Linked DNA regions of Homo sapiens: regions 2, 3 and 4 are each reported to be linked to region 1. Evidence: microRNA targets listed by miRTarBase, many of them from high-throughput screens and not tested one by one. Region 1 holds a microRNA gene; each other region holds the end of a gene's coding sequence.
What was found. Region 1 holds the annotated microRNA hsa-miR-6504-5p (UCUGGCUGUGCUGUAAUGCAG, at 3,051-3,071, opposite strand). A microRNA usually pairs through its seed, bases 2 to 8, with sites in the 3' UTR of a target mRNA and lowers its output. Matches are read on the target gene's strand: a 7mer-m8 pairs with bases 2 to 8, a 7mer-A1 pairs with bases 2 to 7 and ends in A, and an 8mer does both.

Region 2: miRTarBase lists ZNF610 as a target of hsa-miR-6504-5p. Seed matches in the 3' UTR shown: 8mer at 4,404-4,411.
Region 3: the mRNA of ZNF24 is a reported target of hsa-miR-6504-5p. The part of its 3' UTR that is shown has no 7-base or 8-base seed match.
Region 4: the mRNA of C10orf67 is a reported target of hsa-miR-6504-5p. The part of its 3' UTR that is shown has no 7-base or 8-base seed match.

What each region holds. Positions count from the first base shown.
Region 1 is chr16:81,606,382-81,614,422 of GRCh38, reverse strand. MIR6504 (microRNA 6504) reads right to left here and starts at 3,075; the gene lies at 3,015-3,075. It overlaps CMIP (c-Maf inducing protein), which reads right to left. Exons shown (of 21, transcript NM_198390.3): 2 at 6,731-6,856. RefSeq lists an enhancer at 5,632-5,861.
Region 2 is chr19:52,363,915-52,371,955 of GRCh38, reverse strand. ZNF610 (zinc finger protein 610) reads right to left here. Exons shown (of 6, transcript NM_001161425.2): 6 at 4,178-6,258. The coding sequence ends at 5,189. It overlaps ZNF880 (zinc finger protein 880), which reads right to left and starts at 2,033. Exons shown (of 4, transcript NM_001145434.2): 1 at 1,979-2,033. The coding sequence starts at 1,990. RefSeq lists enhancers at 1,592-1,731, 1,932-2,041, 2,052-2,351.
Region 3 is chr18:35,330,148-35,338,188 of GRCh38, forward strand. ZNF24 (zinc finger protein 24) reads right to left here. Exons shown (of 4, transcript NM_006965.4): 4 at 2,080-7,623. The coding sequence ends at 7,085. Among named protein-coding and RNA genes, the nearest start is that of ZNF24, 10 kb to the right of the region's middle.
Region 4 is chr10:23,199,272-23,207,312 of GRCh38, reverse strand. C10orf67 (chromosome 10 open reading frame 67) reads left to right here. Exons shown (of 16, transcript NM_001371909.1): 16 at 3,058-4,617. The coding sequence ends at 3,140. Among named protein-coding and RNA genes, the nearest start is that of PTF1A, 11 kb to the right of the region's middle.

The sequences.
Region 1 (8,041 bases):
GTCATGCTGAAGTGACCCGTGGCCCGCGCGTGGGAGCCCCTGAGAACCCGTGCACCGCTTGGCACACTCCCTTCCCCCACTGGCCCATGGTGGACACACAGCACAAGTTAGAAACAATGCCGTGCCGCTTCCAGCCACCTAGAATGCGTGGTCGCTGGTGACTGTGGCAGCACCTGGCCTGCCCTGCTCTCAGACTGGCTTCCATGCAGCGTGTACTCCCCCACCAGGAACATTCTGCTGTCACCCCCTTCTCTCCGCTGCCCGCTGGACTCCTACTTACACTTCAGGTCCCTCCTGAAATGCCACTTCTCCAGAATGACTGTCTTGATGGTGCCTTCCCCTCCCCATCCCCAACCAAACCAGGCCAGAATGCCTCGCCTAACGCATCACACTGTCCTGGAATCGCCTGTCTAGTTGTCCTTCTTCTGCAGGCTATGGGCTCTGGGAGGTCAGGAACCACGTCTGACTTAGGCACCACTGTGTCCATGAAACCCGGAGAAATGTTTGTTAAGTGAAAGATTGGTTGAAGTGTTGAATGAATGAATGAATTGGATAGATGGAGACATGGATGGATGGAAAAACAGATAAGACAGATGGACAGTCTGATGGATAAATGGATGGGTGGGCGGATAGATGGATGGATGAATGGGGCATTCATATACCCATTCTGCTCAGCGAAGAAAGTCCACACACAACAGACCTTCAAAAGAACTCTTCAGCTCTGATTCCCTCTCTTCCCCAAACTGTATTTGACTAAGACTCTAAAAATGATCATGGCAGTGTTTTCTTGAACACCTACTAAGTACCAGGCACAGTGCTAAGTATTTTACATGTAATATCTACGAGCCTCACAATATGCAAGGAGACAAGTATTAGAGTGCGTTTCACAGATAAATTAAATGAGCCCCAGAGAGGTTCTTCCTGCTGTTTAGGGTTCCACAGCTAGAATGTGGTAAAACCTAGGGTTCCATGGCTAGTTAGAGTCTAAGGATCCAGAGCTAGTGCCCAGGGAAGTTGGGCAGGAACTCAGGTCTGTCTGACCCCACAGTCTTCCCTCCCTGCAATCCAGCCCTGGAACATGAAGCAATGCATCTGAGCTCCTCTGGATTCCCAGGACTTGGGTTGGGACATCCGTGAGCATTATTTCTCCATGGTAGCTGCCCTACTGATGAAGCAGGAGGAGGAAGGATGTGGCACGCAGGAGACCTCACCTTGAAACTAAGGGAAGCGCCAGAACTTGCCTCTAGGAGAGCAGGTGGAGGCTGATGGAGCCAAAAAGGTTGGGACAAGGCCGGACTGTAAACTGCTCGTTCCTTTGGCTTGTCTACTTTTGAAGGAGGACATACGCTGCTAGGCAATGTCTTGAGTCCCAGCACAGGCATCTCTAAGGGGCTTCCAAGCAAAGGGAAAGCTGACCAGGCTGCGTTCCAGCTGGGGGAAGGGTCACGCTTCTGTGCAGAGTCCCCATACTGTCCTGCTGGTGGCTGAGCCAAGAGAACTCAGCCCAGTGGGAACATAAGGCATGGCTGGAACCCCGAGGGTCACTCTGAGGAGAATCCATTCAGACCTGGGAAAGGTCCCCCAGCCCAACCCTGAGGGTCACTCAGAGGAGAATCCATTCAGACATGGGAGAGGTCCCCAGCCAGACCCCAAGTCCCCCGGAAGCCTGCGGGCAGCTGGTTCCAGGCTTCCGACTTCTGGTGTTAAATCTTTGGAATGCTGAAAGGGCCTGGTTCCAGGCAAACGCTGCCCAATTTCCTCTCCCAAACTTGCCAAGTTCTTTCTCATTGTTGCATTGTCTTGAGAGGTGAGAAAAACAGCCCAGGGTGCGCTGTGAGCGACCTTTTCCAAGCTCCCCTTCCCCGGCCCAGTTTCTTAGGGAAAAGGAGCTTCCTTTCTTACTGGAAGCTAGAGAGTGAGACCTTTCTGGTGCTTTCCAGACCGGAAAAGTCCTGCTTGCTACCTTCCAGTAAGAAAGGAACCCACCCCGTCCCTGCCCTGCTGCCAATGTTTGGGGTAAACAGTTGCCCCGCCTCCTGCAGGACTTTCCAGAACATTGGTGAGAAGAGCCGAGTCCCGGAACCCATCCCCGAAAGAAGCAGACACTCTTGGGAGGAGGGTCTCCCTGCTCTTATCTTGCCTGAAGCCTTGTTTGTGGAGCAGCGGCTCTGTCTAATTTTTGCTGATGGGCAGCCACTCAATTTTTAGGCAGAATCCCCCAGAAGATGATCTGCGCCGCGCTGCTCTTTAATGCCTGCTACCCCATCCCAGGGGCCAGTGACAGCACCTTCAGGACGTTTTCATGACACTGTCTATGTACTTACATGCTTGGCCTCCCCACAATGAAATGCTAGCAGAAAGGGCATCAATGGAGGAAATGGGATAAACAGGCCCTTTCTGCAACGAGGGATTCTAATAACATGGCAGTGAGGGAGCTCACGCTGAAAACACAAAGCATCCAAAACACACCAACTGGACCCACGCTGGAAGGCTGGGCGCCTCTGTCTGCCAACTCAACCTGCTGGTAGATTGCTCTGTCTCTGAGCTGGGGATGAGGGGCATGGGCCTGAATGTCCTCTCTGCCTTCCTTGAAGGATCAGGTCAGCTCCCCGAGGTCTGCAAGAGGCATTGATTCAAATTCTAACAAAGTAAGAGTTTTACAAAGAGCTCCTTAGAAGACAGAGAGAGCGGAGGAGGAGGAAGAGAAGAGGGGAGAGACACACAGAGAGGACTGGGGGACAGGCTCAGAGGTGGTGAGAGGCCTGGAGGAAGGACCTGCAAGAGAAGCCCAGAGTGAGCCACAGCAAGGACTAAAGAGAGAGAAAGAGGAGAGGCAGGAGGGGACAGAAGGGGAAGGAGGGGAGAGAGATGGAGAAAAGGCATGAGAGAGAGGAAAACAGACACACATGGATGCAAAGAACCTGAAAGAGACAGAGATGGAGAGAGATCAGGCAGGCTGGGGTAGGGAAGGGGCACTAGCCCTCTTTGGGCCCCGCCATTCCCCTTGTCTGTAGAGAGAATGGCTGTGCTGTAATGCAGCAGGGTGCAGACTGCATTACAGCACAGCCAGACTGCAAGATCGAAGAGCCCCCTGTGATCTGACGTGATTCGCCCCAGGAGGGGCTCAGGTGCCTGCAGTATGAGGTCAAAATGAAAAGGCCTCGAGGTCAGCACTGCTCCACAGAACTTCGTGTGTCAATGGAAATGTTCTTTATGTGCGCTGTCCAACACAGCAGCCTTTGGCCATGTGTGGCCCCTGGCCACTGGAGGTGTAGCTAACGGGACTGAGGAACTGTGTTATTAATTTGATGAGTAAATTAAATCCATCTGTGGGCTGCCATGCGTGGCTGCTGGTGGCTGTGCCGGGCGGCACCATTTAAGGCACTTTCACTCATCTGCTGACTAGGAGCACTAAGGTAATGCCGTTCAGATGGGCACCTGGCTGTTTCTTGGTCCCCTCTCCCACCCTGGAGCAGGGAAGATCTGTCCCCAGGGCCAAAGGGGTTGTTCTCTGTGACACCACGGCTCTGGGATCTAATACAGTATGTTGTATGTGAATCAAGACAAAGTACAGCCTCTCAAAGCAGAGGGTCCTGCCACCCGTCACAAAAGGCACGTGAATACAACCAGGACTGAAGAAAGCCCTGAGTACCACACCAGGGGCCAAGTGCACCCCGCCCCAGCCTCCCTAGAACCACACAGACTCGCTAGCCCTGTTTATAGAATGAGCCAGCTACATACCACCCATGCATCACGGTGGGCAGAGTGTGGGGGTGAGGATGAGAGGGAAGCAAGGGAGAAGCCGATCCAGGTCTACCTCCCCTGACGGAAATGGCAGCCAGGGAGAGAACCACAGCCGCCAGGGGCAGGGGCTGCACCCACCTGGGTTCCCCTTGGGGGAAGGGTTGGGAGGCCGTGTCTGCTGCTCCCTCATTAGCTCGGAGTCCGGCTCTGGATCTGAGGAGTTGCAAGCCGCCTCCTCCTCCTCCTTTTCCTCTGCTTCCTCCTCTCCTGCTCCTGCCTCTGACTGCGCTGTCCACGGGATCAGGGGGCAGTGAGCAAGTGGGATGCTGGAGCAGCTAGAGGCTCCCCGCCCGCTCGGCTCCTCAGCACCACGGCGGCAGCTCTGTCCTGAAGCCCTGCCAGACACGGCGGCCAGGCGAGTCATCACAGCTGGGCCCGCGGCCACAGCCGGGTTAAAGGGACATTCCAGGCACTGCTTCTCTGCTTTTCAGCCTCACTGCCCCTCCATCCCTGTGGCGAGTGATGCTCTGGCCTCCTTTGGAGGCCAGGGCTGCCCCTCCAGCCCCAGAAGGAATGAGGCCCCTTTGCTGGTGGAGCAGGAAAGTGGAGGCTCAGGGCCTCCTCTCCTCCAACTGGAATGTTTCAAGGGGCTCCCTCCTGCCTCTCTGTCATGCACAGATCTAGGCCCCTCTGCCCTGCCACCACACTGATTCCTCTAGTGTCCCTCTACCCCTTCAGAGCTTTCAGTGGCTGCCTATTGCCTTTGGAAGAGGGTCTGAGGCTTCTTCACTTGGCTGGCAAGGCCTGGGTGATCTGGCCATCGCCCAACAGATCTAGACATATCCACAGCCCCAAACTCCATCTCTCCATCTCCTCCAGCTGCAGCAAGTACCCAGGTCCCCCATATTCAGGCTTTGCACACACATCCCCTCTGCCCGGGGAGTGTGCCCCCACCCCACCATTCTGGCACACTTCTACTCATCCCTCTACACCCAGTTCAAATGCCCCCTGTCTGGGGAGCCTGCTTTGGCCCCCCAGGCCAAATAAGTTCCTCCTTCTCTGGGCTCCCAGTCCTCCACGGTTGCCTCTAATTTAGCCATTATTTCCGTAATCATTTGTTTATGGCTCTGTCTCCCCAGGGGCTGAGGGGCTCTTCACGCATGGGGCCTCCCCGAGCACAGGGGAGAGGCTGCCTCAAAGCTCTGTGACTACAGCAAAGTCATTGGGGTAGGACAATCTCTGGCTACCCTACCTCTCCGTTGGCCACTGAACCCTGTGATTGCCCGCCCCATCTCCCCCGCCGAGGGGGGCTGGCACTGACCACCCCCTTCATGGACTCTGTGCTGCAGCCATCGGATGGGCAAGAAGGAGCGAGTGAAGAGGCAGAGGAGCTGGCAGAAGTGTCTGGCAGGAGGGTGACACTGACCTCTATCATAAAGATGAGAGGAGAGAAAGAAAGAAGAGGAAGGCTTTGCTGGCTGTGGTGGGGAGGGGGGGAGGGACAGTGTGGGGGTGTGGGGACAGGGTTAAAAGAAAAGCGTAGAGGGCAGAGTGTGAGAGATTCACTAAGAAGAAAGCAGACTGGGGCAGGCGTGGTTTCCAGAGTCCTCTGAGAGATGACAGTAAGAAACAGGACATTTCTAACAATGCTAAGTTGTTACGCTCCGCTACTGAGCTCAGCATTCCTTGGAGCCCAGACTGGGTGACTCTCAGCCCAATGCTGTTACACAATCCAGTGGCTGCTAGATCTAAAATAGGTTTTTAGAAAGCATCTCTTTGGGCTAAGAGAAGGTTTCCCTGGAAAAACAAGTTAGGAATAAAATGATCCCAAAAGAAAAAGCAAGGCAGGTCTTCTTCCCACTGATAAGAGAGTAAATTTTCTCTAGATGAGGGGTTTCAGACTCGGGGTTCCTTCTGAAAATTGGCTGGCTCCCCTGACATGATGTAACATGTCTTATGTATGTGTGACCGTGGTCGTGGTTTTTGTCAGTCACTTCTCCATTCTTGGTGGACGCACCTCACCGCCTCTGTGTGGTCCTGGTGGGGCTACCAATCCGAGACCTGGGCCTTGCCTGAGGTCAAGGGTGGGCGGGTAATCCGGGGGAGTGAATTCCTGGGGGCTGAATGGGAACACGGCAGAGCCAATCAGGATCTTCCATGAGATTTTGTAAAAGGTACTGGAAAGAAAAAGGGCGCTCACTCTTAAGGATTACAGCCTCTAAGGATGTGGCTTTGGGCTGCAGGTGGGTCATCTTTCCTACCACATGGTGAGATTCTGCCAATGAAGCCAGCACACAGAAGCACAGCCAGGAGATGGAGAGAGAGATGCCCAATATTAATGATGTCATCTGACCCCCGGATCCAGCAATGCCTGAAGTCCCCTCTAAGGCTTCCCAGTTACTTTAATAGTTAATTTAATAGTTAACAGCATTAAACTCTCTTTTTGTCTCACTAGTTGGAATAATGTTTGTGCCATTTCCAACCAAACGTCCTGACCAGTACATACAGAATGCACTTTTTTTCCCAAAAAGATAGCTTATACTTCTATCAGCCTCAAAAGACTTAGATCAACAAGATATCAGAAACTCCCTCACTCAAAGTAATGCAAAAAGTCAGTATCTATTGCTCATCTGCTTTTCACGGCCTTCTTGGGCCTAACAACTCACCTGTGTGCCTCAGTTTCCTCATCTGTAAAATGGGGATCATAAAACTTATTTATCAGGTTTATTAAGGGAAACTAAATGAGCAACCTGAAAAGTTCCTAGACTGCAGCAGGTGTGCAGGAGACGCTCAGGCCATGCACAGTCCTTTTCGTTTTCTCCAGTCAGACCTGGTTTACAGCTTTCTTATACTTGGGGAATAAAATCACCCAAAGTTAAACAACCTTTCCTCTTGATAGCTGCTGGCTCCCTCCAAGGGAAACGAGGGGCACAAGTGCATGAAGATGAGGGAGAAGAAACTGCTTGTTCATGTTTATTTCTCCTACCTGCAGTAAGACAGTTCCCCCAGGAATCGTGAGCTGTAAACAGTACTTCGGGGCATTCTCCCAGGACAGCAGCTGAACGTCTTCAATTGCGCTGTAGGAGACTGAGTTTTCCATGTACCCAGTTGGCTGCAGCAAAAAAAGAAAAAGAAGAGATATGCATTGGTTACAGTAGCAGGCATGACGTCCGCATCTCAGACGGTTTTGGAAACATCGCCCCTCTGGCGACAGGCAAATGGAGCTGGTGCAGGAGCTCAGCACCTCTGGTGACCAAAGCAAGCCTCCCTGTTTCTGGCTGGCCATATCCAGCTGCAAGGGGGTTCACTGTAAAACTCCACCCACACGTTTGGAGGTGCAGAGTTAGGAACAGAGTGGGAGCAGCTGGAGGGCAAGAACTGAGGGACTGCTGCTCTTGGTATCCGCGGGGCCAGCGCAGGGAGTGGCTGGAAGCCCGCCATCCCTCACCAGCAATAAGCCACCACCTTCTCCTGCCCAGAAAGCACCGATTTCTCTTCTCCCTCTCCCCACGGATATGCATCCTCCACTCGGCCTCCAGAGCCACGTTCCAAGATGGAAAACTCCATAGCCCCACCCTCCTCCTCAACATTCTTCAATGGCTCCCAATGGCCCGGCCACAAAATCCACACTCCCATCCACAATCGACAGACCCAGCGGGGTCTGCTCTCCCTATGCGCCCAGTCCCGCCTCTCGGCGGCATCTCTCCCTTTCCACACTCCTCACACTGCCCTGATAACAGTGCCTCAAACTCAGCCGGCTCCTTGTCCCAGAAAGAGCACAGCCCCACCCCTGGCATCTGCGCTTCTACTCTCCAGGTCTCATCTCAACTGCACTTTTCGGGGAACTCCCACCCTCTAGACTCATGACCCAACCTGCTTGCACCCTTCCCTGTGCCCTCCTTTTCCGGTGCTCACCACACCCTATTTATTTGTGGCTTTATTCTGTGTCATTATCTGTTGGATGTCTGCCTCCTGGCCAGGCTGCTAGCTCCATGAAGTCAGGGCCTAGGTCTGTCTTGGTTCCCACTCTTTCCCCAGTGCCTGGCTCATGGCAAGTGCTCAATAGCATGTGTTGAAAAGAATGAGAAACGCTATTAGTATTGGTCATTGTTGGGAGTAGGGGCGGGGCAAGATAAATCCACAGCCACCCACCACTCTCTGAGTGAGTCTTGCTGTCCCGAGAAGGCACCAGGTGACCGAGGGATACAATGGCCACCAGGAGCCAAAGCGGGTGTCCTTGTCACTTTGGCTCCAGGAAGCCAGACTTCAGGAGAATCAGGTGAGTGCAGCACAGCTG
Region 2 (8,041 bases), not on the chromosome of region 1:
GGCCTCCCAAAGTGCTGGGATTACAGGCGTAAGCTACCTCACCCAGCCAGGATGAAGCTTTTGAACACCTCCCATGTGACAGGCACTTTCTAAATGTTGTACATGTACTAACGGCTATAACAACAAAAGCCCATAAAAGAACAATCTGTTCCCATCCTATTGAAGAGACAACTCTTTCTCAGACATTCTAAGAAACTTGCCCCAGGTGTGAAGGCTAAAAATGGCAGAGTAAGCGCCAGATCCCAGGAGTCTGGGCATTAGAATCAAACTTTAAGAATTAGGCCAGGCGTGGTGGCTCATGCCTGCAATCCCAGCACTTTGGGAGGCCAAGGCAGGTGGATCATTTGAGGTCAGGAGTTGAAGACCAGCCTAGCAAACATGGTGAAACCCCATCTCTACCGAAAATAAAAAAATTAGCCAGGCGTACTGGTGGGCACCTGTAATCCCAGCTACTTGGGAGGCCGAGGCAGGACAATCACTTGAACCCGGGAGGCAGAGTTTGCAGTGACCTGAGATGGTGCCACTGCACTCCAGCCTGGGTGACAAAGCGAGACTCCAGCCTGGGTGACAAAGAGAGACTCCATCTCAGAAAAAGAAAAAAAAAAACATCAAACAATAACAGATCAGCATCAAAAGTAAATTGACAGACAATGACCTAACTGAGTATAGTTAAAATAAGTTCCGGGATTAAAATCAAGAAACTGTCGCACATGTATCCCCATAACAGGTTACTATCCTTACAGCCATAGACTCACTATCATAACAGTGTAGAACAATTTTAAGGTCATGAAAATATATAAGATGTAATTTCAACTGTTAAAAGATATAAGACGTATATAAACTGATGATGCGCCTTTGATAAAAACAATAGACTTGCTCATCTGTGCACTCATCCACACACATCACATGTACACACTTATTCATATACATATATACATTCACACACATATACTCTAGTAAACATATATGTGACAACTGAAAGAGTTGTCTGTCAATAACCTCTTTTTTAGATATTTGTCTTTGTTCGTTTTTTAATGTGTCCAGGTTGCAGTGCAGTGGCTTATTCATGGCACACTACAGCCTTGAATTCCTGGCCTCAAATGACACCCTCTCCGAGTAACTCGAATGACAAGCGTGCACCACTGTGCCTGGCTGTCGTTGTTTTTGCAAATGTGCATTTCAGCATGTTTGCAACAATAAAAATGTATAAACTGTGCTCAATTCAGTTTATAAACATTATTTCAAACTATTTCAAAAAGTCAGACCATGTAAAAACATAGAAACGAGAATTCCAATCTCTATTAAATACCCGTACTGAAACATATGTTTCAAAAATTGAGATGGGGGTCTCACTATGTTGTCCAGAGTGGTCTCAAACTCCTGTGCTCAAGGAATTCTCCAGCCTGGGCCTCCGGAGAAGATGGAATTCCAGCCCCGGCCCATAAATATTAGGTTGGTGCAAAAGTGATCGCGGTTTGCCATTACTTTTGCACTAACCTAATTTTGTCCACTAAATATTTATTTAGGTGTTAGCAAAAGCCCAATGGAGGCTGAAACATCACAATCAGCAGTAAACATCAGATCGATTTCCTCTCATTTAAGGCACAGAAAAGGGGGCAGGCCTGTGAAAAGAGGGCGAGGCTTGGGGGACCGGAAAGACGTGGATCCATCTCGCGGGTGAGAACTTTACGCAGCGCGGGCCGTGTCTAGGGGTCACTGAAGGATTTGAAGCAGGCAAACTCCGCGACAGGAGCTGTCTACATGGCCCTGTGGTGAAAGACCGGGGACAGGACCAGCCTCCGAGCGATTTTAACACTCAGGGAAGCGACCGCCAGACTCTCATTAGAACGTCTGAGTTTAGTCGGGGTGGAGGGAGCGATGCGGGGATTTCAAGGTCTGTGTGACCCCTGAGATGCCGGGTACAGAAGCGCGAGGGGACTCAGCATCCCAGATTTAATCTAAACAAAGGGAAACTCACACGCCGCAGCATGACCGTCACTCCACGTAATCTGCTTCCGGGTCTCCAGGAAACTGCGCGCGCAGCTGAGAGGCGAGGCGAGGCCAGGCCCGGGTGGGATTGGGCGGAGCCTGCGCTTCCCTCCGCCTCGCTCCCAGCTCGTCTCGTTTTGGAGGCTAGACCTGCCGTGGAGACTGGAAGAACTCAGCTATCTGGAAATAGATTGTGTCCCGGCAGAGGGAAAGTTTGTTGATGATTAGATCCAGGAAAATTCCTGCTATTAAAATTAATTTTAAATCGGCTGTAGGGGCGCTCGCATGTGGTCCTAGCTACCCGGATGCTGAGGTGGGAGGATCGCTTGAGCCCATGAGGTGGAGGCTGCAGTGAGCCGAGGTCGTGCGCTGCACTCCCGCCTGGGCATGAGAGAGAAACCTTGCGCCTAATAAATACATAATCATAAATAACAAATTGGAAATAAATAATTAAAATAAATAAATATAAATGAATAATAAACACTAGTTTCCGGAATTTTAAAGTCCTTGAATTGTTTATGAAGGGGATGCAAATTAAAATATGAAATGCAAAACCCTGCCAGGGCGGAATGTGCAATTTCCTTTTTTTTTTTTTTTTTTTTTTGGAGACAGAGTTTCGTTCTTTTGCCCAGGCTGGAGTGAAGTGGCGCGATCTCGGCTCACTGCAACCTCCGCCGCCTGGGTTCAAGCGATTCTCCTGCCTCAGTCTCCCGAGTAGCTGGGATTACAGGCGCCCACCACCACACCGGGCTACTTTTTTGTACTTTTAATAGAGACAGGGTTTCTCCATGTTGGCCAGGCTGGTCTTGAACTCCTGACCTCGTGATCCGCCTGCCTTGGCCTCCCAAAATGTTGGGATTACAGGCGTGAGCCACCGCACCCGGCCAAGTTTTTTTTTTTTTTTCATATTTATATTAATCCTAGTGTATACCTGCCATTGTCTTATGGACATACTCAGGTCACAACTTTTTTTTTTTTTTTTTTTTTTTTTTTGAGATGGTCTCCCTCTGTCTTTCAGGCTGAAGTGCAGACAGCTCACTGACTGCAGCCTCGACCTCCTGGCATCAAGTGATCCTCCCATCTCAGCCTCCCAAGTAGCTGGGACTACAGGCACACGCCACAATGCCCAGTCCCATGTCACAAAATTTTGTCTCCAAACAGCACTCATTTATTTGTCCCCTAAAGTTTTCACCAGAGCAAAACAGGGAAGAAATGTATTAAACATAGAATTTGGAGGCAATGTAGGAAAAAAATGTAAAAATATATATACATACAAAAAATATAAAAATATACATGCTAGGTGTGAATTGTAACTAAGTTTCCAGTATGGGTAGTGGGTATCCCCGCCCCAGCCCTACCCTTTAGCAATCATGACACCCCAAGCCAGTCACCTATCCCAGTTCTCTGAAGCCACTTTTGGACCAGCTGGAAAAGTATACCCTGCTTTCCCCCACAGAGCCTCATTATATAATAAACACTCTCAAACCATATCAGTGTATGGGATCATCATTCTCAAGATCCAAGCCAAACCTTAGGGGGACTTCAAACAAGTTCCAGAAGAGTGGTCAAAAATTCAAATTACCAAAAGAGTTGTGAGGGTGACTATATGAAGTTTCTAGTTAATGTACCAAAACAAAATTCCCTTTCTGTGTGTGACTTAAAAAGAAGATGGGTGAACATTAATATTTTCAAATGATGTCACTGAACACTAGAAGTACAAAAAGAAATTGTGTTACAGTATTATTATTATTTTTTTTTTTTTGAGACGGAGCCTTGCTCTGTCACCAGGCTGGAGTGCAGTGGGGTGATCTCAGCTCACTGCAACCTCTGCCTCTTGGGTTCAAGCGATTCTCCTGCCTCAGCCTCCCAAGTAGCTGGGATTACAGGTGCACACCACCAGGCCCAGCTAATTTTTTTTTTTTGTATTTTTAGTAGAGACAAGGTTTCACCATGTTGACCAGGATGGCCTCAATCTCCTGACCTCGTGATCCACCCAATGCAGCCTCCCAAAGTGCTGAGATTACAGGCGTGAGCCACCAGGCCCGGCCATGTTACAGTATTTTTGCCCTCAACCCATACTTTATTTCCTAATATTTGTCATATTACTATATATTTTTGCTGCATGAAAATGAAGGTGCACACCATAGTTCTTATTTGGCACACAAGAAAGAGGCATGTAGAAACACAATACAGGGCATACTCTTTAACACTCACACACATTTGAGGGTGTACAAGGCTGAAATTGTACTATTAAAGTGATTTTGACTTTACCCACATAAACATCCTACACCAGAGTACAGAGAAACTAACTCAAGTACTAAGTGTAATTACTCAACATCATACTTACTTAAGTATATTGCACCCAGAAGCGTATGTTGTTTTATGTCTCACACACATACACACACACACACTTTTCTGGCTGCTTCAACCTTAAAATCATAATGGGTTATTATTCTCTACTATAAAGTATCCTCCTGAGGTAAGATTAAACAACGCTGGTAGAAAGGATGTAATTCATTCACACTAAGAAAAATTTAAACTAGGCCGGGCGCTGTGGCTCACACCTATAATCCCAGCACTTTGGGAGGCCAAGGCCAGTGGATCACTTGAGGTCAGGAGTTTGAAACCGGCCTGGCCAACGGAGGGAAACCCCGTCTCGACTAAAAATACAAAAATTAGCCGGGCAGTAGTGGCACATGCCTGTAATCCCAGCTACTCAGGAGGCTGAGGCAGGAGAATTGCTTGAATCCGGGAGACGGAGGTTGCAGTGAGCCAAGATCATGCCACTGCACTCCAGCCTGGGTAATACAGCGAGACTTCGTCTCAAAAAAAAAAGAAAAAACTAAAAAAAAACTTTAAACTTTATTACTTAAAACATGAGAAGTATGTACATTCTAAATCAAAGAGTTACAAATTACGGTGCCAGCAGTTAAATGTGAATCCTACTCAAGAATATGCTATACTGGTAGTTTTCATTAAATGCTCTATTCTGATATAACTGTTCTCTCTTTATAGATTATTTATATATGTTATTAACTTTACATTTGTAGGGTTTCCTTTCAGTGTGGATCAAGAGATGAGTGATGAGGCTTCAATGCAAACTAAATTCTTTGCCACATTTATGATATTTGTAAGGTTTTTCTCCTGAGTCCTCCAATGTTGTGCTAGGTGTGAATTCTAACTAAAGATTTTGCCACATTCATTCCATCTGTAAGGTACGCAGTGAATTCTCTCCAGCATGAATTTTCCGATGTCGTGAAAGGTGTGGATTTTGATTGAAGACCTTGCCACATGCATTACACTTGTAAGGTCTCTCTCCAGTATGAATTCTCTGATGGTTGGTTAGGTATAATTTGCGCCCAAAGACTTTGTCACATTCATTACATTTGTAAGGTTTCTCTCCAGTATGGATTAGAAGATGGGCCATAAGGCCCGGACGCTTGTGAAATGCTCTTCCACATTCGTTACATTTGTAGGGCTTCTCTGTACTATGAATTATTTGATGCCGTGCAAGGTATGAAAGCAGACTAAAGACCTTGCCACATTCATTACATTTGTAAGGTTTTTCCGCCGTGTGACTTCTCTGATGATTGGTTAGAGAAAATTTGTGCCTGAAGTTCTTGCCACACTCATTACATTTGTAAGGTTTCTCTCCAGTATGGATTACAAGATGGGTAGTAAGTCCCGAACACTCTCTAAAAGCTTTGCCACATTCGTTACATTTGTGAGGCTTCTCTCCAGTATGAATTCTTTGATGTCGTGCAAGGTTTGAATTGCGATTAAACACCTTGTCACATTCACTACATTTGTAAGGCTTCTGTCCAGTATGAATTCTCCAATGTTCTACAAGGTGTGAATTGCGACTGAAGACCTTGCCACATTCAGTACATTTGTAAGGTTTCTCTGCAGTATGGATTACTTGATGGTTAGTAAGGCTTGCACGGACTCTAAAAACTTCACCATCTTCACTACATTCATATTCATAAGATTTTCCTCTAATGTATGCTTTCTCTTCTTGTGGGAGTAATGGGAAATCAATAAGATCATTTCTATATTTATTAAAAATGTGTGTTGTGAAACTAGAAGAAATTTTTTGAAGTGGTGAAACTGAGGAACGATGGTTTGTAAACTTTTCAACTTGATTACTTCTGTAAATTTTCCTTCCGGCTTGAAACAGCTGCAATTCAGACAGATGTGCCTCAAGGGTTAATCCAAGTTGATTTTTAATAGGCTTGTTTTCTGCATTGCTTCCCAATACACAGCTCCTCCCTAGAAAAGAAGAAAGAGTAGAACATGAACCCATGATTCTGGCATGTTTACCGTCTGGTGGAGGGACCAGAATCAGCCTCACCCAACTCAGACACTGGAAGAAGTATCGGCATACTTTGCATGTCACATTGTGAGAGCTGAAAACACAAGGGGGTGACGTGATGCATTGGAGCAGTGGGGAATCTGCAGGACTCGGGAGGATTATGAGTGACTTTGAGAAAGATTAAGGGCAGAAAAATAGAACAGAAACTGAAAGCTTCTCAGAAAAAGCAGGGATGAGCCTCTTAGAGAAAATAAGACATTTAAGAGCAGTTGTATAGACATTAGTAATAGTATAATATACGCATAAAGCTAGGAGAGACACAATCCCAGGAGTGAGGTGTTCCCACACCCTTTACAACAGGCTAATTGGGAAAGGTCTCCCTGTCACACCTGTCACAATTCTTTTTTTTTTTTTTTTGAGACGGAGTCTCTCTCTGTTGCCCCAGGCTGGAGTGCAGTGGCACCACCTCAGCTCACTGCAACCTCCGCAAGCAATTCCCCTGCATCAGCCTCCCAAGTAGCTGGAACTACAGGCGCACGCCACCACGTTCGTCTAATTTTTTTGTATTTTTAGTAGAGACGGGGTTTCACCACGTTGGCCAGACTGGTCTCAAACTCCCAACCTCAGGCAATCTGCCTGCCTTGGTCTCCCAAAGTGTTGAGATTACAGGCGTGAGCCACCGTGCCCAGCCTATCATTAAACATCTTAAAGCAAACTTGCAGGCTAGAAGGCAGTAAGATGATGATATGTTGAAAGTGCTTAAAGAAAAAAAAATACGGCTGGGTGCAGTGGCTCATACCTGTAATCCTACCACTTTGGGAGGCTGAGGTGGATTGATGACCTGAGGTCAGAAGTTCAAGACCAGCCTGGCCAACATGGTGAAACCTCATCTCTGCTAAAAACACAAAAATTAGCTGGCTGTGCTGGCACATGCCTGTAATCCCAGCTACTTGGAAGGCTGAGGCAGGAGAATCACTTGAACCTCACATGGGGGAAGGCGGGGCATGGAGGTTGCAGTGAGCCAAGATCGCGCCACAGCACTCTAGCCTGGGCGACAGAGCGAGACTCCTTCTCAAACAAACAAACAAAAAACCAAGAATACTATATTCAGCAAAACTTGCTTGCAAAAATAAAGGAGAAATTTACACGTTCCTGAATAAAGAAGAGCTGAGGAAGGTAATTAGTACCTTGGAACTGTCTGACAAGAAATGTTAAAGGGAATCCTTCAAAAGGAAATAAAAGGACCCCAGACAGTACTTCTAACCCAAATGAAAATATAAAGTTCTCCATTAAAGGTCAATAAATGATCAAATATGGAAACATAGTATCCTGAGAGTGACACTGTATGAGAAAAAAATTAAAAAAGAAAACAAAAAAATCATGCATTATTGTACTTTTCATTTGTAATTTGGCTTTTCTTTCCTAGCATTTCAAAGGCAAAATTATTTAAAAAGCACTAAAATGTGTTAATGGGAATATTACATATATAGAAGGAACTTCTAGCACAATAACAAATAGCACAGCTATAATGTAATGCTTTCGGTACCTAATCAAGGTTAAGCTGTTGACATTTTAAAATAATGTTTTATTGTTACAATGTTTTATGTAACTTCAATCTTAACCACAAGAGGAAAATCTACAAACATACACCAGAGGAGATGAGAAGGGGATCAAAGCATGTCACAATTAAAAAACCAACAAAATACAAAAGCAGGCAGTAAGGGAAAAATGAAGGACAAA
Region 3 (8,041 bases), not on the chromosome of region 1:
CTCTGATGCTCTATGAATTATGAGGTTTTCTACTCTGGCTGATACCATTCCTGTCTCTTTGTGAGTTCCGGTGATTTTTCCCTCTAATCCTTTTGGATAGTTCTTTTCCCAAACTCAGGTAGTCTCCTTACATATATGTTTATTAAGTACTCAACTGAATACTTGAGAGGGACTCTGCAGATCTCCACTGTTGTCTTTCTGTGCACTTATCTCCTCTCTGATACTCTGTCCTGCAAAAGCTAGCCACCTTGGCCTCCCAGGACTTCTTGCTCCATCTTCTCAACTTAAGAAAACTGCCAGTCTCTGCCTGAGCCACCCTCCCTGTGCTGAGGCCTGGAAATTCTCCCCAGGCAAGTAAATGGGCAATCCAAGTTTGCCTCATTTGTTTTTTGTCTCTTGGGAATCCCATCTTCCCATTCTTTGCCTCTGTCTGCTATATTTTGTCTGATATTTTATTTATTCAGGCAGGTTAGATCTGATCCCTGTACTCCATCTTGGCCTGAAGGTTTTTGTGTGATAAAAACAGCATATTTTTATGTTAATTAGAGAATTTCAGAAGACAGGAAAAACTGAAATGTGGGAAAGGTGAGGACTATTGGAGTATGTCTTTCCGAGGTGTGAGAAGACAGCTTGGATCCAGTGGAGAGGTTAGCCTTAGGCAGAAGCAGACAGTTGATCTAAAGTTCAGAGGAAAGAAGGAAGCCGTATATAGACATATAGACACACTTTTTTTTCCTAAATATGTATTTGTTGTGAATAATGGTGTGATATAGATGGGGAGAGGTATATAGATAGAACATTTATATAGGTGTATAGAGAATAAAAAATGTTACTGGGATGTTATTAGGATTATGGATTCGCATGACTTTTTGGGTGATTTTTATTTCTAAACTTTTCCTATTATATTACCTTCATAAGAAAATATGTAAAGAAATATTTTAAGAATTTAGATAAACTAGATGGAGATTTTGTTTTGCTCAGCTGTTCTCAGCACCTTGTCACATTACTCATTTGCTTAAAACCTCTAATGGTCTCTCATTACAAAGAAAAAGTTATAGTTCTATCAATGGCTAACCAGGTCCTCCATGATCCAGCTTCTCCCTGCCACCCTCACCACATTTGTCTTTGGCCTCACCTAATTCCCCCCATGTTCATTCTGCTCTAGCCGTACGGGCCTCTTTGGTTTCTTGCACAAATGAGGCATTGCTCTTACATCAGCTTGCTTTGCAGTTGGTGTTTTCATGCCTGGAACACTCTCCAGTCTCATGGCTTGCTTCCTTATACTATCTTTTCTCCAATGTCACTTTCTCAGTGAAAACCTTCCCTGGCCAGCCTATCTAAATTGCACTATCTTTCCTTCTTGACATTTTGTATCCCTTTCCTATTTTCTCCCTAACCACTTCTCATCATATGACATACAATATGCTTTCTTAAAAAACTGTTTCTCATTTACTTTTGGTTTTCCACTGCCACGTGTAGTTTTTCACACACGCAAGCAACAGATGTAAATCCCATAACAGTGCCTGACCCAGAGTAGGCATTTAAATGTGTTGAATAAAAGCTTGCAAAATGTTTTCCTCAATTTTGAAAGACATCTCTTTGAAAACTCCATCTTAGGAGATGTGATTAATAGAGGTGCCAGGTGACATAGAGCGCTGCTACATTTCTGGCCATAGAAAAGAGCCCACAGGGTGAGGCTGCTCAGGTCTGTGTGTGCTCATTCACGTCTTGAGTCCACAGGCCTGAGAATGAAACAAAGAGCCAGAGAACCATGGAGTTGGGATGGAGGTCATTGGAAGGGCTCCAAGGGTTGTATACAGGGAATGCTTGAGGGGAATCCCCCAAGAACAATGGTAGGAGATGGGTACAGCTCTCAGCAGTGTAACCCTTAAAGTCCCAGGTTAATGAGTCTAGAGGAAGAATAAGAAGAGAACTGCCAAAGAGGCAATTGTGTAAAAAGCTGTTCATCCACATTCCCAACATCAATGTTGTTACTATTGGAATGTAAAGTGTATGTGTGTGGGGTGTGTGTTATAGGGAGAATGGAGTAACAAATGGCAAAAGTTGACACAGGCCAAATCATGGAAGGCCATGCTAATTTTATTAACTTATATAGTGCATAAAGTCTAGAATTTAAAATTACAAAGGTTTTCTACAAATCAATAAGAAAATACAAATAACCTATATTAATCAGAACAGAAACTCAATTCAATTATCTTAAACAAGAAAGGGACTTTATTGGCTCACAAAACTTTAAAGTCCGGAGGTAGGGCAGGCTTTAGGCACAGCTGGATCTAGGGCCTCCAGAAAAATGACATCAGAACTTAGTTCTCTTTCCATTTCTGCTAGCATCCGAGTTTCTCCTCAGACAGACTCTCTCCACATGGCACAAATTCAGGCTTACATGGTCCTTGGTTCCTGGGATCTCCATAAAGCCTTCTTTCCAGTAGTTCCAGCAGAAGTTCTGTTAAGGGCTTTCCTTAGCCTGGCTTAAGTTATATACCCATTCTTTTATCACTGTGGCTAGGAAGCTGTGGGACTCAGGAGGCCAGGCCTGGTCACATGCTCACCTAAGCCACAGGGAATAGGTTCCCCACAAATAAATAAAGGTTGTGTTACCAGAAGATGGGGAAGGAGATGCTGAACAAATAAAAACAATATATCCACACATAACCCAATAGAAAGCAGGTAAGGGATACAAACAATCCACAGTAAACTATAAATGGCCAATAAACATGAAAATAACCCCAATCTCACCATTTTTTTTTATAATCAGGGAAATGCAAAATAAGAAAAGGTTCTTTTTCGCCCAACAGATAAAAACTATCAAGTGTAGGTATGGTTATATGGGGAAATGAACATTCTCCATACACTTGGTGAAAATACAGTTATGAAGGCCTTTGGGAAGACTGAAGGTGGACAGAGAACAAACCCTTTGATCCAAAAATCCACCTTACTGGACTCCAGACTAAAGAAATATTCACACACATGCACAAAGACATCTGAATAGGATGTTTACTTTGGCAATGTAATAGCGAGAGGAAAAAAATTAAGGGAATAAATAATGGCATTTTCATAGTATTTAATCATATTCAACCATTAAAGAAATTTAAAGACCTGTTATCTTTTTTTGAGACCAAAATTTTAAAAAGCTACAGAATATGAGATCCTATTTATGTAAAAAGTGTTTTTATGTGTATGTATATTCGTACGGAAAGGTGACTAGAGGATGTATGTTAAACTGTGGTAAGTGGAATGTGATTGGTAGCATTGGAGAAAAGGGTCTCTCTATTCAAAGAACTGTGTTTTTTATACAATGAGAAGGTAGTCATTAGACTTTCATAATTAAAAAAAGGAAAATGGGCAAAAGCAATTCATAATAGGAAATGCAAATGGCCAAGAAACATGAAAAGATGTTCCTCCTCATTAATATTCAAAGAAAAGAAAGAAATTTTGCCTACCAGATTGGCAAAAATTTTTAAGGATTCAGGGTTGGCAGACTATAGGCAAACAGGCATTCTTACTAATGATGGAGTTGTAAATTGGTGAAATCTTTTTGGTAGTAGTTTTCAAAACTGCAAATGTGAAACCTGATCCAATAAATTTCTAGTTATTCATCCTACAGAAATACCCACACAAGTAGCAAAATACATGTACAGGAATGTTAATTACACTTCTATCTATAATGAACCTAATTATCAATCCATAGGGGATTAAATAAATTACAGAATATTCATGCAATGGAATAGTATATAGTTATGAAAAAAGAACATCTTCAATGTGGGGGGAGAGGAGGCAAGTCTCAGTGTAGTGCATGTGAAATGGGGTTATGTCCTACTTTATACGGTAGCTGAGGATTAAGAGTTAATCCATGATAAAGCACTTCAAATAGTGCCTGTCACAGCAACCACAGGTGTCAGCTGTTAACACATTATTGATTAAATAAGTATATGCCTAAATCTGGAAGAACAAACGAAATTATCATGACTTCTCGGTAACACTGTGAAAGGAAATATCCTTTTTCATTTTACATTTCTGCACTGTAAAAAATTCAAACCAGCAATGTTTAATAGCTTTCACATTTGTTAACCATAAACACAAATTTATCAAGGTTTAATAGCCACCACCCATGGCATGGTGAATATGTCCCTGGAGTCTACAGAACCAGATTTGAATTTTATCTCTAGGCCACATGCAAGTCACATGATCTCTGAATCTTGCTTTCCTAGTCCACAAATCTAAGTGAGATAGGTACGGTGTCTAAGCCAATGCCTAGCATGCAGATTATTTCAGTACATGTAACCCTCCCTTCAATTTACATGAATATGAGACATATTGCTAAAGATCAAGTACCAACTGGGTATGACTACAGAGAGCTTAACCTCCAAGAAAGCCAGAAGAAAAAACCAGCAAATGCTCAGTGGCTACTGGGCAGATATCAGCAATCTGCATGACCTAAAATGACTGCTCATTTGCTAACCAAACAGATACTCTGGCGATGCCACTGCTTGGCACTGCCATATCACCACTTCATCAGAAGCTAGGCACTCCCCCAAATTTCTATGATTATCTGTGTGGGTAATGAATGTGTGGATGGAATTTAAAAATCACTACATAGTATTTAAAATCAATTTGTCTAGTGGGGACTAAGCCTAACCAGAGATAGAAAGTACACATCTCATCATTTCCTCTTCTTGTGTGCCACCATCCAGTTTTTTTTGGTCCAGTCCCTTTTTCCCACAGAGCTTTGCCTTAGCCTCAGAATCCTTTCTGAACAATGCAGATATTAGAGCTGCCAAGACAAAAACAGTATTTGCCAACCCTCATACTACTTTTTCTACACTCACATTACCAAATATCTTTGGCATTTATGACAAATCTACCACAGGGAAGCTTCCTTGTATATAGGAACCGCATACGATCTTAAAAAGCATGACATAATAGCCATTGAGAGGTTGCTCCCTTCTTACCTACTCTGATACAAGAATTCTGTCATTCCAGCCGTCTTCCAAATATGCCACCTGAAAACCTACTTGGAAAGAAGCCAGTTATAAATAAATAAATCACATCATTTATCTTAGAGCAGAGGAGTTTACAGCTTTATTGGACACTGACTTGTTTCCCCTCAGCCACAAAGAGAAAAAGACCCAAACAAAAGTCCCTACATTTTCTTGTATAACTTAAAATACATTATATCATTACTACATATTTATACTTCAATAAATCTTAATCTATAAAGCACATTTTTTATAATTGTTATCAGAAAACCTATAAACAAGCTCCATTCTGCCTCACTTTTCCACCAGCTGGCCTTGCATTTATTACTATGCTTTTTAATAGGCTCATGCAAAATCTCACCTTCCATTTTTAAACTTGATCCAAGCACCAGATATAACCAAAATCTCTGAACTAGGAAATATTTGTATTCACATGGGTCATTTTCCACACAATGATGCCCATTATAAAAAAGCCTCCTCTCATATTCTATATTTTAACTTCCAGAGTTTTCCACTAAACAGTAGAACCACAGTACTTGGAATTCTCAGCCAAGGAGTATATAATCCTACTACTACAATGTATTACTTTAATACATTTTAAAAAATGTGTTAAGACTGAAAATTAAAAAAAAATTCAATTGTGATAGGTTAATAAACTAGTTAATTGTCTAGTTGTTTATTTTTTAAATAGAACAGTCCATTCAACTTAATATGTAGGTACAACCTCAATGCTATTAGAGATTGATTAGTTCTTTAAAAAGATTCACAAACTTCCAAATTGTGGTAAGAGTATCGTGGACTCACCTCTGAACACTGGAGAGCCAGCTAGCTCTTTTGAGCCGAGTCCTCCTCCCCCTCCAAATACAACACCCTGGTAAAAAAAACTACAGTTCTGGGAACCTCACAGGTGACCTCCCCTGAGGAATGCTCAGACAAGGGGAAGAGGCTAACTCACATAAAACAGCAAACCCCTATGATTTACAGTGGAAGAAATACCTACCTACTTATGGTAGGATTACAGTACCTAGCACAGTGCCTTGTCGGTAGAAAATGTTTAATAATAAATGCATGGCTGCTTTTTTAGCCTGACGTTCAACCCTTTTGTACCAAAGGAATAAAAAATAGGTAACCTGATACTTGCCCACCTGTCAGGGAATTTTCTGTCCTTAACAAAGATGAAGGCAAAATAATGATGAACTCTATCATCTTTTTCTAAAAGCCATGACAGACCATTACCCTTATGTTTACATTTGCCTTCAACACTGCCATCCGCTACAAATTTTTCCCTAGTGTTATAATTTCTACCTTCATTATTTTACAACTGTTTATTATTTAGACTGTATGCTTTTTAATAATATATGGGAAAACATTATTTTCATTAGTAAGATGACTCCAAATTATAGAGAGGATGAGTAGCTTTTGAATTTTCCTGCAGGCAAAATATAAATTCTTGATACATTTCAATTCTTAGATCAAAGTATTTGCATATCTTCCCCAATCAAGGTGTTCCATTCACTTTTTGATGTTTTATCACCATCACTTCTTATCTGAGATCTTATGGTTCATTTTGAGGCTCTTAGCCATCCTTTATCCTCTTATTTTCTCAAATGCATATTCAAATTAGGTAAAAGGAAATAAGGGTAAATTTTTAAAAGATGGTTTAAAATGGTTTTCAGACTTTGTAATTCCTGTTGCCTTTTAATATATAAGGGAATGTATCCATATAAAGAACATTTCAATGATCAATGCAGAAATAATGTATTTGTCTTAAAAAAGAAACTTTCAAGAAAGGGACAATGAATCAGGTAGTTCATTATTTGGAGAAGTAATACAGACTATAAACATCACATGGAAAATTTAGGCATTAAGACCTGAATTAAGTTTAAAATTTCAGTTTCTAGGCAGGTATGACACCATTTCTTTCAAGATAAATATCATAATGGTGAGTGAAGATTTTTACATTTCCCAGTGGATTTTCTGACAGTCAATAGGGAAAAAACTATTCTGCATCATTTCATATTTTAAATTTTGTCTTCATTTCTGAAGAAAAAGACCTGAGTGCTGATTCTTTTTTTTTTTTCAATTTCTTAAACTTTCACAACATTCAGAAGTTTTTCTGCATTGTGTCTTCTCTGATGTCTAAAAAGATTTGAGCTTTGACTATACGATTTCCCACACTGAACGCATTCATAAGGTTTCTCCCCAGTATGGATTCTCTGATGATTAATAAGCCCCGAATTCTGGCTAAAGGCTTTCCCACATTCAAGACATTTGTAAGGTTTTTCTCCAGTGTGGACTCTCTGGTGTTGCACAAGAATGGAACTTCGGCTGAATGCTTTCCCACACTCAACACATCCATAAGGTTTCTCCCCACTGTGAATTCTTTGATGAAGAATAAGGGCTGAGCCCTGACTGAAGTGTTTTCCACATTCATCACATATATGTTGTTTCTTTCGAGAGGGATTTCTCTTTCTTTCAAACCTGCCCTTGGGGAAACAGGTTTCTCCATATTTAAAAATTTGAGGAACACCCATATTGAGAGTGCCAGGAACTTCATGGGATTCTAATGCTGAAGGAAGCTCCTGCTTTGGAGCTAGTGCTCCATTTTCAGTCCTACCATCATCATCTGAAATAAACAGAAAATGTAAATATCATTCATTATCTATTAAGGGAAAAGAAACCTAAAAAAAATTTTTTTTTTAATGAACTAAAATAGCTAGCACACATCTATAAACCACTCTGACACTGGTGTTAAGGCCTATTCTCAAAAAAGAAAAAATGAAATTACTCTGAATAACAGTATAACATCATGATATAAGGGATATCTGAATAAAACATAGGCAAGTGGTTTACAAATGGTAGTCAGAAAACAAAGGTCAGAAAGATGGTAGATTCTAAGATGGTTAGGGAGATAGTCAAAATGATGTGGCTAGGTATGGATGAAACTTTGTAAGAATAAAAATAAAATAAAATTGGCCACTAGGAAATCATTATAATGTTCTTTTACTTTGAGAAAGGGAGAAATTACATCAAAATACAAAGAT
Region 4 (8,041 bases), not on the chromosome of region 1:
CTCTTTTCAAAGTGACATCAGCTTTCCAGTAAAGGAAGTTCACAGTAATTAAATTGTGTGGACATTAATAAGTCCACTGGGATTTTTCATGTGATAGTCCCTAAATTATTTTCAAAATGTTGTCTTCTGACTTCATTCATTAAGACAAAAAAAAAAAAAAAGCCTTTAGGAAGTTGGCATGTTATTCACCAAACAAGCTCCTTTGCATTTTCTCGTAAACTGGGCAGTGTGAGCTGTAATTGGTGGCCTTGCAATGAAACATTTGTAGTAACTTTATCAAGAGTATGGCACAGAGGTGGCATCAGATGACAGTGCTTTCTCTTCATGTGTGTCTGCTAACATTTAAGATAGATTCTGCTTTTTTTCCAATGACTAATGCTGAGGCATAACTTGGAGATATACATCTTTTTTAAACTATATTAAAATATTATATCTTTTAAATTATCCACAGAAAGAGCTAGAAACTCTAATAATAAATTATAAACTCACACTTCATGTAACTAGTGACTCTTTAAATGAAATTTTTCATTGAAACTTTGTCATTAAAATAGAAAGGGCTTTGGCTGTGCCCATACAAGCATAATAAATTGTATATGTTTGTGATACTGAATGACTTTTACCCATATGCTGCACTGCAAAGCTACATGAATGAGGCATTTACCAAATCAGGCCCACCACATTAAACAGAAAAACAATCTTTATTCATGGTAACTTATCAGTTTCAATTAATCAACCCTAACAATGGAAATTCTGATGTGTTCAAGCAACTTGAAAGCAATAGGTCATCTCCAGGGCAGCATTGTTGTGTCTTTGTGCCGAAGATTTCAAACAAAGCAACATCTTCAATAAATATACATGCATATACATATATACATGTGCATATATATACATACAAATGGACAGTTACAGCTGAGCCCTGTGGTGCCAACAAAAATGCATGTGTATTTTTTATTATTTTTATCACAGCACATGTAATTGTTTTCCCTCAAGTATTACTTTTTGAGCTCTGCAAGTTTAAACAAAAGGAAAGAAATTTCCATTGGATGACCATCCTTTCAGTTTCTGTACTGCTATGTGAATAGCATTGTGCAAACCATTCCATTGGTTTTGAAAAGGGGTAACCATTGGTTTGATTTGGTTACACGGTTTAGTAAAGAGCTCCCTCCCACTGCCTTAGGGTCTGTGAAAGGTCTGTGACCTGTTTAGAACTGCCAAGTGAAATGTCATGTTGCCCCTCCCAAATGGGAGTATCTGCATTCATTTGATCAGTATAAAAAATGATTGGGGATGGCGAGATCAGTGCTTTTGAATTGCAATTTATAGCAGTTTACAAAAATGCACATTGTTAGAAAAGAAAACATGGAAGTGTTTCTTTCTAAATTGCATTACCTGTGAAATGTCATTAGTCTTTTAAGGATATTTACATCCTTTTTTTATTATTTAGGAGACTTACTTCAACTAAAGAAAATAAGAATTTTATTACCTTATGATTTTTTGAGTTGTATTTTGGTTTTAGTGTTAAAATTTTTTAAAAAGCAATGTTTCTGAGTTATTCATATAAACATAATTTATCATGTCCATTTATTGATTTTCTAAGATAATCTTTGTTAATGGGTTGTATTAGTAGAAGATTCTTAATTATCTTTCCCAGATTGTTCAGGACATTTATTTGTTGGTAAATTCCTCGTCTGCTGATTTCTAATAGACTAAAATCTCCAGTATACTTAACTCTAGCAAGTTTCCACTATTCCTTCAACATTGTACTACCAGAACTTCTTTGTAAGATGAGTACTTTTCTAAATTATGGAACCCATTGACTCATCTACATGTATGCATAGTTTTATAAAAAGAAATTTCATTTCTTTTCATTAAATGTGCAAAAGAATACACGAAGCTTATCCAGAAAGTTTAGGTAGCCTGTTCAAGTTCATAAGGGCTGAATGCAGCCTCCTGGAGTTTCTGGGATGCAGAAAACAATGCCCTTTATGCTATTTCCAGGCATCTCACAAGCTCTGTATCTTTATGGCAGTGTGTAGCATTGGACATTACTTTAAAGAAAGCTTTGAGTAAGAAAAGTTACCTTGGGAAAAGGCCCTTGGGGCTTTCCTGGTTGATACTTGACTAGAAAAAGAAAGGCCCTTCTGCAGAAAAGACTTGACCCAGATAGGCTCTGGAGCACTCCACTTTGAACCTCCCAACCATTGAAAGCCGAGGTTGTCACGTTTTTATCTTTGTTCATGTTAAGCCTTGGAATGACAGCCTGGCTCCTCTGTGTTCCCCTCTCCCACTGCCCCGGCTATAAGTGTCCACATTGACACCTACCGGTGACCGCAGGCTGCAATGCTTTGTTGCCTTCTCCACGCTCCCGGCTTTCACTGGGATTAGCCCAGGGCCTTTGTTCCCCTTCAAAGCTGGAACATCACATCCCATGTTGTGGCTTTCCTGTCTCAGACCCCCAACGCTTTCCTCACAATTTACGCACCAGGTAAATGTTCCTCCCCACAGGGCAGAGAGCCCAACGTTGAGGTTAGGGGGTGGGGACATCTTCCCATTCCCCAGTTTCAGAGCCCAGGGCCAATGTGGTTTCCTTTCCTTCTCATTCATAATTTTCTATTTCACAGGCCCCGTCTATTTCCATTGCAAGGCAAATGGAAATTTAAAACTTGGAAAAATCAAATCCCTGGGCCCAAACACAGACAACTCTTCCCACTTTTTTTATTCTGCTACAACGGCTTCAAGTAGAATGTTGAGTACTGGCCTTTATCAGGGGCACCTGAGACCATTCCTGCAGCCTGGGGCTGCCGGAGAGCCCCAGACTGTCTCAGAGCAAAGCTTGGCTGGCACACGCTGTCTGGAAGGCCAAGGATAATCTGCCTGCCTGCCCTACCTCCTTCACCGTCTCTCTTCCAGGTTCCTGAAGAGGCTCTCAGCTAGGGCCAGGGCTGGGAAGACCCACTAAAAAAAATGACGCAAAATGCTTTGGGGGAAGAGTGGGAAGTGGTCTGTGTATGATAAGTAAAACAAAGTTTATGTCTGTCCACCTTTCTTCACGTTTAGGGAAGTTGTCGGAATCCCCAAAAGAAGAGTCCTTGGAGGAGCCCTCCATGCGCCAGAGCAGCCCCGCAGAGACTGTTGATTAACCCAGCAGAAGCCTGGGCTGCGCAGACGGGGCCTCAGAAAGAGTGGCCTCGCCGTCCTGGTGTAAGGTGCCTCCCTCGGAAAGGATACTATCTCCAAGGATTTTCTAAACTAATTGTTTAATCTCTCCAGATTATGTATATTAACCAGCACTGCGCTCGAATAGACCTCAATGCGCGCCTTGTGCGCGCTCCTTTCCACGCCTTTAAGGAAAGCCCTGGCTGGTGCTGGGTGAGCGGGGCGCACTGAACCTCCGGGGCAACCACATCCATTCAGGAGCTCCGGGGACTCAGAAGAGCCCAGGCGTCTAAGAGTGGGAAGGGACGGACTTTAATTAAAAAGTTTGACTCCCTCTCTAATCCAGTCTTTCTATACCAAAAGCATCAACCTGTTTTGCTGTCTCCTCACCCAATAACTAGTCCCCATGAAGGTAGGTCATGAAGACTACAGGGAGATCGTACATTTCCTCAAGCAAGATTCATTCTTATCTTACCCCGGCACAGGGCACCTAGCCGCATCTTAAAGGCTGTCAGAAATTCTTTAGTAAGTAGGGAAACTCTTTGGAGTTTTGCTTCCTGGTAAGGATGCAAACCAAGATTCTGCTGGAATGCCAGACACCGTTTACCAAAAGGCGGGTTTGCTTTTCTTCCATGCGTAATGTCCAACTTGGTTCTTTCTATTCCCCTAACTACAAGTAAGGCCTTGTTAAGAGCCTGTATCTGAATCGTAGGCTCTGGATTACAGAATTCTACAGTTATTTATTAAGTCTCAGGAAATATATTTGTGGTAGTTGTCACATAAAGCTGATATACTTTAGTTCAAAAGAAAGCTGCAGAGGTGATTTATTTGTGCGTAAAAGGAACAAGATTTAATTGGAGAGAGACGTGTTCTTTTCAACGCAAGTACATGGGATGGTATAGCGCTGTGGAGCGTTATTCGAGCTTCATCTACTATGCACTATATGCCGCTGTCTCCAAAGGAGTGTTGCCCTAGAAACTTGTTTTAAATCTGCTGCTATATATCAACACCTTGTTTTAGCAGTCCTTGGCTGAATTACAGTTACACAGTTTGGCGCTTCTTTCAAATTTCCTCCCATCAGTTTGGCTAAAGAAAGGAATTTTTCTCCTTTAGAAATGAATTGGCTTAATTAGTAAGTAGATTAATGGCAATTGCTGGTGAGTTGGTTTCCAGCAGAGTTTCACCAGAGAGGGTTAATCGGAGTCAGGTCTGGAATCTTTCCCAGAACTGGCTGCCAGCCATTTCCACCAACCAATCAACCCTACAAGAAACAGAGGAAATGAAATAAAATTTGTATTCTCTGTGCCATCGTCCTGGACAGAAATTCCTTGGAAGCAGCCTCCTGGTTGGGTGTGATATCAAACTGCTTCATTTCAGAACTTTAATAGAAACTTGAACCTTCAAGATTTATCTGGGTACCAAAGCAAAGTTTCAAATGGCACAATAAAGGTCTCCACAGAACCCTGGATGTATTGGAAATTTCTGAGGCTCTCAGCCAATTTCAGGTTGGGAGAAATTGCAAACCACCCAGGTCCTGCCCTATATCTGTTGTCCATCAGAAGTCCTTCAAAAGTTTTGCTGTATGTTTTGCAGCCTTTTTACTTTTTTACTTATTTTTTTCCCATAGTGATGAAAATGCATTCATAGTTTAACTTGCAGCTGCATTAGTCTTACAAAAAAAAAAAAAAAATCCCTGCTGAGAAATGCATATAATAGGAAAAACAGATCGGCTGGACAGCAGTGTAATTAATGCCAGAAAGGGCTGAGGCCGGTTTCATAGTTTGTCTTTTGAGGATATCAAGACGAGACCTGGTGAAAAATGACGCATGCTTTAGCATTTCAGAAAGCTGGCAACTGGCAGCGCTTTTCCTTTTTTCTTTGACTTTCTGCCGCGGAACAAAGAGGTCCGCAGAACTAGCTAGGTTGTAATGAGTTCTATGTCCCTAGCACATTAAGTGCATCATGGAAACATATTGTATCGAAATAGTTTGGAGGAGAATACCGGGGATGAAAGAGAATGGGTGCTTTGATCAGCTCCCTGGGGTCCTGAGCACGCACAGACTGACTTGCAAGGAGTTATTCAGCTCCAGCTAGACACACTTACAACACCATTGAAAGAAATTTGCATATCTGTAATTTATCACATTGGTCCAGAACATTATTGCAAGGTAAATAAAAGTTAGTTGAATAAAAAAAATCAATCATCGCAGATATAGAGAAAACTGTGAAGCCAGTCTTTCCACTAAAAAATAGAAATAAATATGTCTATAAAACATAGTGACTTAGAAGTAGCTGACTTTATTTTAAAATGCCTTTAGAACAACAGGTTATGCACTGGCAAAAACAAGAGTGGCCACAATTTCTTTGCCTTTCTGGTTTAGGGGAGTGTGTTCACTGCTTCCCACTGGAATAAAGTCAAAGTTGAGATGTGTTTGGCCATAACCAGCCTGCAACATGCAGACAAAAATTAGTACACACTTTGAGCAGATATGAAAGACGACTTAATCTCTCTGGCATTTGCAAATGCTAAGTTAAATCTCATTTCTTCTTCTGTTGATTTCATTCCTAAGCCTTGTTTGCTGAATTTAGCTCAAGAGGATGAAATGTCCAGAGACCTGGTCAATAGGAAAACTTGCTTTCGAATGCCCCATGAGAACAAGTGAAAATTTAACAGGCAGGCATTGTTCTGAGTTTTGAAACAACCCAGTTAAACAGCAAACAAGAATCTTCAACTTGACCTTGAAAAAGGCTGTGTGCCTGCAGATAATCTATCAAACAACTCTAGATGACAATGATATATTTCAAAGTATTGTCAGATGAAAAGATTGATAAATTTGCTGTTGCAAAGAGAGAACTTTGGAAACAGGCAACAGGCACTTTAGCTCTCTGACTCCGCCTCCTCCTCTGTCCTCACTGCCCCGTCCCCACCCCACCACCCCCAGCCGCCCTTGGGGCCAACTCGGTAGAAGAAGGCCAGTAAATCAGCACTGTAATATTTCTTAAGGGGCACGGAAAAGCTGTGAACAGTACTTCTCATATTAAACGCAATATTTCTTTGCTTTCGTGGGGAACAAAAGTCATAGCAAGACGTCTTTATGGCTAATTCAGTCAAAGGCACATCCCTGGTTCCCCCCGAAGAAAGGTCAGTGTCGTTGTGTTTGGTCCACCGAGGGGGTGTTTTCACACTGAAAACTGAGCCAGCTGTCCCTGTCATACCCTCGCCATTGGGGAGCGCGCACTAGCCATGGTTATTAGGCACTTCTACACCTGCAAAATACACCGATTTCCAAGACTTTTCAAGACACCCTCCCGTTCTCATGCCCCCTCCTCTTGTCTGCTAAACTTTGACAACACAATTCAAGCCCTGGATGAAAGCGCTGCACGCAAGAAGAACTCTTGGGAGGGGTGGCCCAGCTACCATCTCCCAGTGTCTATTGAGCGGCCATCAGAGAAATGAGGCGGCAAGTGTATTTTCAAAAGTACGGAAAAACTTCCAGATAATCGCTTCGAGGTGTCACATTTGCTATTGCCACATATGCCAACTGTTGAACCCTAATATTTTATTATATGCACCGGTGTGAGTTGTGGGGTTGCAGCCAGGCGTCCTTCGCTTAGAAGTGGCTTGTTTTAAAATTTGTAATTAGCATGTCACTGACAAGCGCCAGGAGACACATTTTTTTTTGAGTTGCCCAATGCCAGTGCACGTCTATATTTTTAAAATCCGAATGCCAACGCTTGCCCAAATGGATTTTATAAAACTTCTAGAAACATCCCCTAGCTAGACTCATACCCTGAATCCAATTCCGAAGGCCTGCGCTCCAGAGATAGGCGACTAACTAGCTGTTTGGGAGACGTCCAGCGACTCCAACAGGAAAAGAGCTAGAAGGGATCCTGTGCAGTCACCGAAGAGAAATTGTAAAACTAGAAATAATTCAGAAAACGCATCTTTAAGAGCGAGAATGCCCCGAGGTGCCGGTACCTCTAAGACAGAAGGGCTAATGTAACTAGCTTTCTCCATCCGCACTTACATAGGGCCTAGGAGTGGGGGTAGGGAACCGAAGAGTCCTATCTGGCTGCGGGTTGCGGGGAGGGGACGAGGAGAGGAGAAGAGCCCATTTAATTAGCCGGCGGTGTGTCTCTAATCCTCATCTTTGTCTAATCCACCCAAACTGCCGAGCTCTACATGAGAAGTCCCTAGAGTGGGCGAGGTGCAGAGGTGCCCAGGACGCCTTGGGTTCCTGGGACACAGGCAGAGGTGAAACACCCCACATGCCACAGGAAGCGGGGAGGGGGTGCCTCTCACCACAACGGAACCCTAAACTATTTCCTGAAGGCTTGGGGCCTCCACACAACCCGCCTCCACCAGCAAAGCGCCGGCGCCTCTCCAAAGCGATGTCAGCGCAACAGGTTGTTTGGAACAGGTGCCGGCCAGCTAGGGATGGGATTGGCCTTAAGTTGCGGGGATCAGTCAAGGGCCAAGACTCCCCGAGAAGCAAGGGCAGACCCCCAGAGGTCCGAAAGTGGGGACTGGCTAGAAACCTGCGCCCCCCGCTGCTGTCGCTGCTAGCGCTGGCGCCTCGGCCCAGAGGCAAAAACCAGCTCGCCACAACCTGCGCCCCGGGCCACGGGGCCCTCTACAGGCGGCCGCCCGAGGGCTTCCCTCCCGGCCGCGGGGCGTAGTTGCCCCGGGCCTCCTCCGAAGAAGCCTGGGGTCCCATCCCCGGATCTCCTTTTGGCCGTTCGCTCCCCTCCCTGCTCGCTGCTTCCTGGAGCCCCTCTTGGAGACTTCCATGCGCAAAGATAGCAGAACTGCGGAGAGCAAGGCGTCGGGCAGCCACTTCCAGCCTCAAGCGAAGACAGGCAGCACAGGAGTCCCGAATGCCCC